Linked DNA regions of Homo sapiens. The protein of the gene in region 1 interacts with the protein of each later gene in a pairwise test. Each region holds a gene or a part of one and is shown in the gene's direction. Other genes may lie near its edges.

Region 1 (3,649 bases):
TAAAAGTAGTTGTAAAATTCCCAATACTGCTTTTCTCTTCGGGCCTGTTTGAAGCAACACTTTCCCCAGGACCTGAAGCAATTGGTTGAGAATCCCTGAAAATTCTCTTGGGCCTATCCCACATCAAAAAAAAATCACCTAACAGATAAGTCAGGCTCCAGGCAAATTTCCACCAAGAAAACCTGTTTCTTGGTTCTTAGGCCATCACATGCAGCATTACTCCCCGCTGGTGGTCACTGAGTGTGACGCAGTGTTGTTTGTTGCCTACTCCAGGTCTGCTGCTGGAACTAAGAGGCAAATAAGGAAGGACGCAGACATGGAAACAAATACAGTAGTGTGGTGGTGATGTGATAGAAGCAGCTGTGGAGCGCTGTGGAGCAAGGAGGGGCACCCAGCACAGTGGGCTCTTGCATTTCGCAGTACCTAGGCTGTAACTGGCAGGTGGTACCTGGGCAGAGGGAACAGCCTGTGCACGGACACCAAGGTGCATGCCGAGTGCGGCACCTTCTGCGATGGCAGGAGGTTGAGTCTACGGTGTGCATGATCACTGACTCTGCTTCTGACTAGTTATAATTTCACCTGAGAAAGAACTTTCGCTGCAGACTTGGATCTTGCTGTTTCCTTTGCAAAGGAAATGGTTCCGTTCAAGGCTTTTCTTTTCACAGAACTGATACTAGAAAGTAAAGTGTAATTTTCAAATTATTTAGTCCTCTGCCCAATTTCCCCAGTATGTGGTGTGGTCTCAGCCAGTCTGCCTTTCCTGTCCTTCACTTCCAGGAACTTCATGACTTTTTTCTGTTTTTTGTTTTTTTTTTTTTTTTTTTTTTTTTTTTGAGACAGAGTTTTGCTCTGTCACCCAGGCTGGAGTGTAGGGGTGTGGTCTTGGCTCACTGCAACCTCTGCCTCCTAGGTTCAAGCGATTCTCCTGCCTCAGTCTCCCAGCTAGCTGGGATTACAGGCGCCTGCCAACACGCCTGGCTAATTTTTGTATTTTTGATAGAGACAGGTTTTCGCCATGTTGGCCGGGCTGGTCTCGAACTCCTGATCTCAGGTGATCCGCCTGCCTCGGCCTCCCAAAGTGCTGGGATTACAGGTATGATCCAGCGCCCTGGGCCTTTCATGACTTTTTTTTCAAAACTGGAAGGGCTTAGGATACCTTGCAGATAAGAATCTGCTTTTATTGTGGCTAAGCAGATTTGAGTTTCATCATGAACGTTCTATTCTTTTCTAACTCATTTGTTCTCCCTACACAAGACACTGAAGTATAATAGAATACCAGGAACAGATATTTCAGGTTAAGATCAATTCCCTTAAATTGGAGTTTGCCAACCTGGGCACTGTTAACACTTTGGGTCTGATAATTCTGTTGTAAAAAGTAATACCTCGCCGCTAAGTTGTGACAATCAATAATGTCCTGAGACAGTGTCAAGAGGGGAGACAAAATTAGTTGATGCAGAGATTTTTCTCCTAAGCAGTGAGTTGTCTCTAACCTTTCAGTGTTGCTAAAAAAGAACTCTGGGTGTGGAGTGTAGAAAGGCAAGACTAAATAGCCATATTTCCAAAATTGGCTGGGGTAGGGGAAGTGACGCCAGAGGAGGGGAAGAGGAACTTTCGTAACATAGTCTTGCTTTTCTTTTTTTCTTTCATATGAAGAAATATACATGAACAAAACACATAATAGGTTTTCCCTCAAAAGTTATCTTCCTTGCGAGGCCTTTTCTGCTTTATTTTCCTCCTTAGCACCTGCCATCATCTCTGAATATTCTGCACAGTGCAGAGGCAGCCTTTATGTGAGGGACACAGCACCTGCATTCTCTCCATGTACCTGCACAAACTCCAAAGTCCATGCTTATAGTTTAACTTCTGGAGTCTGAGGCTTACTCATCCTTTAAGCTCAGACAGGTTTCTGAACCATTTCATGTCTTCAAATATTGACCACAGAATGGGGATGAGCATTTGATTTAACGAGTGTTGTTATTTGCACACAGCTCCGGCACTGGTTTAATGGCAGTGTGGGGACTCAGTGCCAGGTATCTGCAGCCCTGTGTTTCTGCTGTGTGGAACGGTGCTACTTGAGTTTCCTGTTGTTTTTTTTCCCCAGTGGAAGCAAAAGCCTTTGCATGTGTACTGAGAGCATGGGGTAGAAAAAGCTCGTTGGGAAGGGATCTCTAGAGACTTGGCCTTTAGGTTGATGTATGTGTTCCCAGATGGATTTAGTACCTGAGAAGCAAAGCACCTGGTTAATGTATGATTTTAAGACAGTACCTGCCAGAATATCCTGGCTCTTAGGCCTTCCTCTCTCCCTAGTTCCTGTCATTTGTGGTTAAACAGTGCTAATCTCTTTCTAATACTTCAGAATACCCTTGGCTTTCTCAGTTTCTCTTGTTTTTTCCCAAAGTGGAATAGGATACTGCCCATGCAAAGAGAGGGAATTTGCGAGCACCTGGGGCCAGGGCTTGCTGGGCAGCTGTCTGGCATCATCTCGCCTTCTTGGACTTGGCTTTCTAAGTCTCCACGTGGGAGCAGTTGGCAAAGAGCCTAACAGTAGGCTGAGCAAATATTTGTTCTTTCCTATGTTCACTGTCACTTAATCTAATTGTTTGGATTAGAAAGCCAACTTCAGTTGCCCCTGCTCTATTCACCCCCGCCACCGCCCGCCCCCCGCCAAGTTTGTTTTTCATCTCTTTTTAAATTCCAGCTTCCTTTGAGCAACTGCCTCTGCCCTTTGAACCCTGCTGCAGATGTTTCCTCTGAAGGGGCTTTCAGAGCGGCAGGCATTGCCACTCCAGCACTTTGTCTGATTAAAGGCCAGAGGCTGCAGAACAAAGGCCAGACATGGAGTCCTGGGTGAGTGTTTATTCCCTGGCTCCTCCTGAATCCCAGCAGTCATCCTTAACAGAGCCACTTCCGCCCTGCCTTGTCACTGGTCAGGGGCAGGCCTGCCATAGCTCTGTGGCCTCCTATATCCACTACAGATGATGGTGGCTGCTTTGAGAGGATGATGTGGAGGTTGTGAACTGAACTCTGAGAAATAGAATCTAGTACCTTTGACCTTTATTATTTGTTCAGCATTACTCATGTCACTGACAGTATATGTCTGCATATCTTTTCTCCTATGATGTGTCAGTAATGAGGAGACATGGGGACTAGTTGAAGGAGTTCTGTAAGATGAGGTCACAGAGAGCTGACCCTCCCTTTCTGAGAGTCTCATGAAGACAGGGTGGCTCAGGGACAAGTTCACGGTGGAGAAAATTGTGCTTTGCTTTTGGAAAACTTACTGTTGCAAGTGTGTACTTTAGTTACCACGTTGGAAGTTTCCGTTTTTCTTAGTCATCATTTGCAACTTCTGGGTAAGCGTGATAGTGACTCTTAGTCATCGTAAAGAGGAACGTCTTGTTGGATAAGCACATCTGAAAGACCAACCTTTGGGATGGCAACTCTTGAACTTTTCCAGCTGGAATGGTTCTGCCTCTAGTAAGCTTTGCTGAGTCTTTAATTTAAAGGCTGACATGTAAAAAGCAATCACTGTAATAAAGCTGGATAAGAAGAATATGACATAGCTAGGCATGGTGGCTCACACCTGTAATCCCAGCACTTTGGGAGGCCGAGGCGGGCGGATCACCTGAGGTTGGGAGTTCAAGACCAGCCT
Region 2 (3,649 bases), on another chromosome or scaffold:
GGACAGCTTGGCATGTCAAAGCTCTTCGCCCCGGGCAGGAGCCGAGGGACGGGGAGGGGAATTTTGGAAGGAAGCCAGGGTATCTCCCTGGCCTGCCCTTGGCTTGCCCTTACCCCTTGCCTCACCACAGGTATGGGGAAGAGGAGCTTTTCTTCCTGCTCCCCCGTCTTTCCCAGGCTCAGATGCCGTTTCCCTTTGTGGCCTAGGTGCAGTGGAGGCTTGCCTCTTGCATCAGCTGAGACGCCGTGCCGCTGGCTTCCTGCGCAGTGACAAGATGGCAGCCCTGTTCACCAAGGTGGGGAAGACGTGCCCAGTGGCGGGGGAGATTTGCCACAAGGTACAGGAGCTGCAGCAACAAGCAGAGGGCAGGTGAGCCCTGGGCCAGCCCCTTCTTCCCTCCTTTCAGCTCTTCCCACTTGGCAATTGCTACTTCCTAGGACACCCATCGGAAAGTTGGCATCCTGGGCCTGTTCCTTGCAGGGCCTCTGGGTGAGGGATCAGCTTGAGGGAGGGGATTGGTTCCTTGTGGGCACAAGGCTCTGTACCCCTCCTTCACCTCCCAACCCCAGTCAGTTCTCTGTGCTCCCATCTTGGGGTACCAAGCCCCACTCCCAATGCCAGCATTCTGGGGTTTACCCCTAGACCACTGCACTCCTGGAGCCCTCCCCGCCTTTGCAGGAAACCCTCAGGGGTCAGCCAGGAGGCCCTGCGGAGACAGGGCTCAGCCAGCGGGAAGGCCCCGGCCCTCAGCCCTCAGGCCTTGAAACACGTATGGGTACGCACGGCGCTCATCGAGAAAGTTCTGGACAAGGTCGTGCAATACCTGGCGGAAAACTGCAGGTGACCGCCCCGTTCCCCAAAAACTGCAGGTGACCACCCCGTTCCCCCCAAAACTGCAGGTGACCGCCCCGTTCCCCAAAAACTGCAGGTGACCGCCCCGTTCCCCAAAAACTGCAGGTGACCGCCCCGTTCCCCCCAAAACTGCAGGTGACCGCCCCGTTCCCAAAAACTGCAGGTGACCGCCCCGTTCCCCAAAAACTGCAGGTGACCGCCCCGTTCCCCAAAAACTGCAGGTGACCGCCCCGTTCCCCAAAAACTGCAGGTGACCGCCTCGTTCCCCAAGCAGCCCCTCCCTTGACCCGTCTCCCGACGTCCCTCAGCCCCAGCCCTCAGGATGCTTGCCTGTCCGTGACAGCCTGTAGGCAACCCTCCATCTCCCCGTCCCCTTCGGTGCCCTCAAGGCATTGGCCATACCAGGCACCTCACGAAGCCCAGTCCCTAAGGACTCACTGTTTCTTGATGACTGATCTGAATCTGGTCTTTGTGGGGATGTCCCTACCTGGTGAGCTTGACTGCCCTGGAATGAGCCCCGGAGCCTCGGCAGTCACACTGTCTGTCTCCTGGCAGCAAGTACTACGAGAAGGAGGCACTGCTGGCAGACCCTGTGTTCGGCCCGATCCTGGCCTCTCTTCTAGGTGAGCCTGAGAGCACAGGCACAGTGGGTACGGGGCAGGTGCTGAGGGAGCATCGTCTGGGCTGGCTGTCTCTGTCTCCACAGTGGGACCCTGTGCCTTGGAATACACTAAGCTCAAGACAGCCGATCACTACTGGACTGACCCCTCTGCTGATGAGCTGGTCCAGCGGCACCGCATCCGGGGTCCACCTACTCGCCAGGACTCCCCTGCAAAGCGCCCAGCCCTGGGGGTAGGTGCCCCCTCCCCACCCTTTGGGCTCATCTGGGCTATGCCCATGGGCCTGTAGGGACGGGAAACCGGCCTCTCTACGGGACAGGCCTTGGAGATGCCCCAAGGTAGCGGCTGCCTCAGAAGAGCCTTCTCCGCACAATAAAACTTAACACAAATGCCGGGAGCCCATGCTGGTCCGTGGCTGGAGAGCAGAGGGTGGCTGGGAGTAAACCGGGGCAGGAAGGACCCCTGGGGTCAGCTGGAGAGGGTCAGCATGGAAGCGTGAGGGTTCCCAAGCCTTGAGGCCAGTTTCCCAAGGCTGGAGGCTGAGCCCCGGCCTTCCACACAGATCCGGAAACGGCACTCAAGCGGCAGCGCGTCGGAGGACAGGCTGGCTGCCTGTGCCCGCGAGTGTGTGGAGTCCCTGCACCAGAACTCACGGACGCGGCTGCTCTATGGCAAGAACCACGTGCTGGTGCAGCCGGTAGGAAAGCTTCATCCTGCCATCCCTCCCCGAAGGTCCCCGAACGAGACGACTGGAAGCCTCTAGCCATGGCTATTCCTTTCCTGAGGAGCTTGACCAGAGACGGGGGGGAGAATGGCCCCAGCCTCCCAACTCCCTGTTTCACACGACTCACGCCCAGCCTTTAGTTGGCAGGGGACAGGAATGGCAGCCAGCAGGCGAGGGGAGTCCGCAGTGTGGGTATGGCTGGCCTGGAATGGACCTGGCATCCAGGAGGCTGGCAGGAGAGAGTCAGTGGCACCAGGCTGACCAGGGAAACTGAGTCCTGTTTTCCTGTGCTTCTGCCCCGTCCCTAGTCCAGGACCCCGTGACTAGCCTAGCTTGGCCTCCCCTCCTCCCAGCGGGAGCTCATTTCTCATAGGCCATCCCTGAGAGCCTCTCAGCCCTTCATCGTCGGTCTTCCGGTGTCTCCCGCTGTAGAAGGAGGATATGGAGGCGGTCCCTGGCTACCTCTCCCTGCACCAGTCTGCAGAGAGCCTGACTCTGAAGTGGACCCCCAACCAGCTCATGAATGGGACTCTGGGGGACTCCGAGCTGGAAAAGAGGTGGGGGCTTTGGGACTCAATCCCAGGAGCCAGGGCAGGGAGTGGGTTTGACCTCAGGCAGAGGGATGGAGAAACCCCGCTTGCTCCAGGAGGCCAACCTCACTCTTTATTTGGACGCCAAGAATAGCAGGGAGCGGCTGCCTGGAGTGATTCCCAAGCTCTCTAGGACGGAGCCAAGCCTGGCCGTGAAGAGGTTTGTCTGAGCCAAGCTCTCAGCGGCTGAGACGGACAGCTGTCCATGTGCCGAGCGGGCAGCACAGATCTCAGGGGTCATGGCTGGCTGTGTGCACCTCTTGGCTATGGTCATCCTATCTTCAGGGGAGTTTCGTGGGGTGGTAGGACCAGGAGACAAGGAAGGAAGGAAGGATGGCAGGTCTTTGGACACAGTGACAGCAGTCTGGTTCCTTTCTAGCGTTTACTGGGACTATGCCCTCGTGGTGCCCTTCAGCCAGGTCGTGTGCATCCACTGCCACCAGCAAAGTAAGCCTGCCTTGTCCTCGGCTCGGGTGGGAAGGGAGAGGCTGCCTTCTGCCAGCTGTGCACTGTGCGTGGGGCCTGTAAGACTCCTCGTCCTCCTCCCATCCTTGTTAATGGGGCTCCCAGGCCATGCTGTAGCCCAGCCATCTGCCTCCTACCCAGCCTGGGGGCACTGGCCAGCAGGGTGTGATAGCCGACGAGAGGGCCTCAGCCGCACTCTCCACGTTCACCCCCAGAGAGCGGTGGCACGCTTGTGCTGGTGAGCCAGGATGGCATCCAGAGGCCGCCGCTGCATTTCCCACAGGGAGGACACCTGCTGTCCTTTCTGTCCTGTCTGGAGAATGGGCTGCTGCCTCGGGGACAGCTAGAGCCCCCGCTGTGGACCCAGCAAGGGAAGGTAACTCGGGTGGGAGGCTTTA
Region 3 (3,649 bases), on another chromosome or scaffold:
ATGACCTAATGATAGGATTGAGTGATAGCAAATGTTATATCGGAAAAGAAGATTGTGGGAGGCCATGACTAGCTGTTTACAAATATACAAAAGGATGTCTTATGAAAAGCAAAACTTCAAACATTAGCATGTTGTGAGTGATCACATGAGAACCAACAAGGCTTTCATGATAATCTGATATTATGCCCCTATTTGCTAATTGTGTATGGCACAACCGGCCTCAAAGAAACATACTATAGTAGAGCAGACTGTGTTATGGTACTACACCATCCTAACTTTTGTTTTTCAGCCACCATTTGTAATGGAGAAGTGGATTGTAGGAATAGCAAAAAGTCAGACTGTGGAGTGCACTGTCACATATGAGGTAAGCTCTGGGGGCAAGAGGCTGGTGGCCTCACCATCAGTTAATGAATATAAATTTATCTGTTATCTCAGAGCATATAATTTATTGGGAGATATACCCAGAGCATATAATTTATTGGGAGTAAACCAACCAACATGAACATAGGAAGATCAATATAATTTCTCTCACAACGTGTTGGGAAGAAAAGAGAACAGGATAAACTTACCCAGATAGCGACTGAGGTAGTACTTCAGTCATTCATTAGTTATGGATTGAACACCTTCTGTATACCATGTAAGATGTTTGGTATTGGGGATACTAATAGTTAATACTAATTTTTTTTAAATCAACAAGATCTTCATGGCTGGTAGGACATACACCTTACAAGGTACGTAGACCCGGTGGGAGTGGGTGGAAGGCAACAGTTATAGTACAGTCTTGGCACACCTGGAAATATTAGTGTGCACCCACCATCAAAGGGACATGCATTTCATTCATTCATCAATTCATTCATTCAAGAAACATTTATTAAGGATCTACCATGAACCAGGCACTATTAGAGGTGCTTACACCAGTTTGATCACACTAACTTCATGTAAATCAATACTGAAAAATATCGTCCAGGCGCAGTGGCTCACACCTGTAATCTCAGTACTTTGGGAGGCTGAGGTGGGCAGATCACTTGAGCCCAAGAGTTTGAGACCAGCCTGGGCAGCATTATGAAACCCTATCTCTACAAAAAATACAAAAAGTAGCCAGGTGTGGTGGCACATGACTATGGTCCCAGCTACTCGGGAGGTTGAAGTCGGGGGATTGCTTGAGCCCAGGAGGTTGAGGCTGCAGTGAGCCGAGATCACACCACTGCACTCCAGCCTGGGTGAGACAGTGAGACCCCTGTCTCCAGAAAAAAAAAAAAATACTGAAAGATATTATTATCCTCATTTTGCAGATAGGAAGAATAGGCTCAGAGAGATGAAAGGAAGTCTTGAGGTGTGAGGTCCTCACTGACAGAATTGTTGAAGTCAATTCCATGTTTTCTGACTATAAAAAACACTTTCTGCGCTTCCCTGGCTACCCTGTTAGCTCCCAGTGGCTGCAGTAAGATGAAGTCCACCTCAAAGAGGACTCTGTGAGTGTGGCATTTTGATGGTTTCCTGGGCTGCCAGGATTTGGCTTTTCAATATTAGAAATACAAACCCTGGGCCAGGCACGGTGGCTCAAGCCTGTAACCCCAGCACTTTGGGAGGCCAAGGCGGGTGGATCACCTGAGGTCAGGAGTTCGAGACTAGCCTGGCCAACATGGTAAAACGTCATCTCTACTAATAATACAAAAATTAGCTGGGCATGGTGGTGCATGCCTGTAATCCCAGCTACTCAGGAGGCTGAGGCAGGAGAATCGCTTGAACCCTGGATGCAGAAGTTGTGGTGAGCTGAGATTGCGCCATTGCACTCCAGCCCAGGAGACAAGAGCAAAACTGTCTCAAAAAAGAAAAAAAAAAAGAAAAGCAAAGCAATACAAACTCTGGCCAGTCCACTTATCCAGGCTGGAAGCCAAAAAGTTTTACAGCAGTTATTTATCCTCACCTGCTGGGGTGCACAGGTTGTCAGGGATGAGGCATCTGAGAAGTTATATTACTTGTCAAAGCATTGCTTGCAAGGTGCAAAACCCAAACAAAAGAGGCTGGTTGGTCTTGAGGAACTTGGAAACTAGACTACTCTACAGCCTGTTAACTGGTCCTCACTACCCAGGAAAAGCCCTCTTGTTAGTAATCGGACAATTAGAACAACCAGATTCTACCTCTGCCTGCCTTAGACAGTTTTGGAGACAGCACACCCAGTTCTCTTTTTCTTCTTCTCTCTCCCTCCTCCTCCTTTTTCAGACCCCATGATGATATGCCACTTTTGTCTGGGTTTTTCACTTCAGAGTTTTTTAAAACAGATTTCCCTAACCATATTGAATCCTGGAGACTCTTTAATTGACACTGATTGGTGACAGCTAGTGAGGAGGGAGATTTCAGAACAAGAAAGTAATGTGTCTTGACCTAGTGTCCTCTCCTTTTCCTGGTCCCCATTTCTTACTTCTTGATCCTGTCTCACTTTTGCATCTGAGACCCTTTCCCCTCCGTGCAGGTAATTCACCCCACCACCTTCACTCAGTTTCCTTGATGATCCAAATTCAGTCTTAGGCAAACATGGTGGTCAGATTTTCATTTATTCAACAAAATAGCTGTCATCAAGTACTATAAATAGAAGATGTAATTTTTTATTTCTTATTAAACAAAGAGGTAAGTTGAGATTTGTCAAATATAATAAATTCTGGGAAAAGACAACCATATTTTTTAGCTACTATAGTTTACTAAGAAATTTATGTTATAATCCATTAAGGAATAAGTGCTATAACCCACTAAGAAATAAAGTGGTTAAAATTTTTCTTTTCATTGAATTAGCATATTTGGGCCAACTGTTCAGAATATTTTCCTAGTGCATTATGATAGTGTTCTAAGAGGTGAAACTGAAGTGATATAATAACCTGGATGACTTTCTTTCCCATTTTATATATGTGTGTCTATTTGGTCATATGTTTCTATTTGTCTTTTTTTTGTCTTTTTCGTTTGTTTGTTTTACCAGAGTGATGTTAGAACTCCAAAAAGCACTAAACATGTCCATTCGATTCAGTGGAGTAGAACAAAACCTCAGGATGAAGTGAAAGCAGTCCAACTTGCCATTCAGACATTATTCACCAATTCAGATGGCAACCCTGGAAGCAGGTCCGACTCAAGTAAGTTAGTGTTCCCGTATTAGATGTGTGCTAGATTCCAGAAACTTAATTATGACATTTCCAGATGATCTAAAGACTCAGAGGATACCACCTCAATCAGTTAAGATCTATCTTTGAGCTTCGAGTAGCAGAAAACCCAGTTGCAACTGGCTTACTCCAATAATTCCCCAAGTGTGGCCCCAGGACCAGGAGCATCGGGATCACCTGTGAACTTGCTAGAAATCCAGATGCTCAGGCCCAAACCCAGACTTACTGAATCAGAACTCTGGGGATAGGAGCTGCAGTCTGCATTTTAAGGAGCCTTCCCAGTGATTAAGAACAACTCTAAAGTCCTTAAGCCACTGATTTAAACTGTAATAAAATTTATTATCTTCCATAACAAGAAGCCCAGAGGTAGGGCAGGCTCCAGGTGCAGTAAGATAAGCTGGCTCAACCATATTCAGAGAGTGGAATGAACCTTCCCTTCTTTCTGCCCTGCCATGCTCAATAGGCTGCCTTTGCCCTCGGCTCCTCTCCTGTTTACAGTC

What was found.
Region 2: the proteins of MPP1 (region 1) and SGSM2 interact in a two-hybrid assay, tested with the Homo sapiens proteins (one large-scale study listed by BioGRID and IntAct).
Region 3: the proteins of MPP1 (region 1) and MAP3K20 interact in a two-hybrid assay, tested with the Homo sapiens proteins (one large-scale study listed by BioGRID and IntAct).

What each region holds. Positions count from the first base shown.
Region 1 is NC_000023.11:154,798,943-154,802,591, reverse strand, and holds part of MPP1 (55 kDa erythrocyte membrane protein), read left to right. Parts: intron 1-2,698; exon of another isoform or gene 2,699-2,835; coding exon of another isoform or gene 2,836-2,847; intron 2,848-3,649. UniProt on the Homo sapiens protein: Essential regulator of neutrophil polarity. Regulates neutrophil polarization by regulating AKT1 phosphorylation through a mechanism that is independent of PIK3CG activity.
Region 2 is NC_000017.11:2,361,431-2,365,079, forward strand, and holds part of SGSM2 (small G protein signaling modulator 2), read left to right. Parts: intron 1-206; coding exon 207-369; intron 370-678; coding exon 679-840; intron 841-1,407; coding exon 1,408-1,475; coding exon of another isoform or gene 1,476-1,558; coding exon 1,559-1,704; intron 1,705-2,034; coding exon 2,035-2,169; intron 2,170-2,569; coding exon of another isoform or gene 2,570-2,628; coding exon 2,629-2,753; intron 2,754-3,165; coding exon 3,166-3,233; intron 3,234-3,466; coding exon 3,467-3,627; intron 3,628-3,649.
Region 3 is NC_000002.12:173,260,774-173,264,422, forward strand, and holds part of MAP3K20 (mitogen-activated protein kinase kinase kinase 20), read left to right. Parts: intron 1-289; coding exon 290-364; intron 365-2,971; coding exon 2,972-3,122; intron 3,123-3,649. UniProt on the Homo sapiens protein: Stress-activated component of a protein kinase signal transduction cascade that promotes programmed cell death in response to various stress, such as ribosomal stress, osmotic shock and ionizing radiation.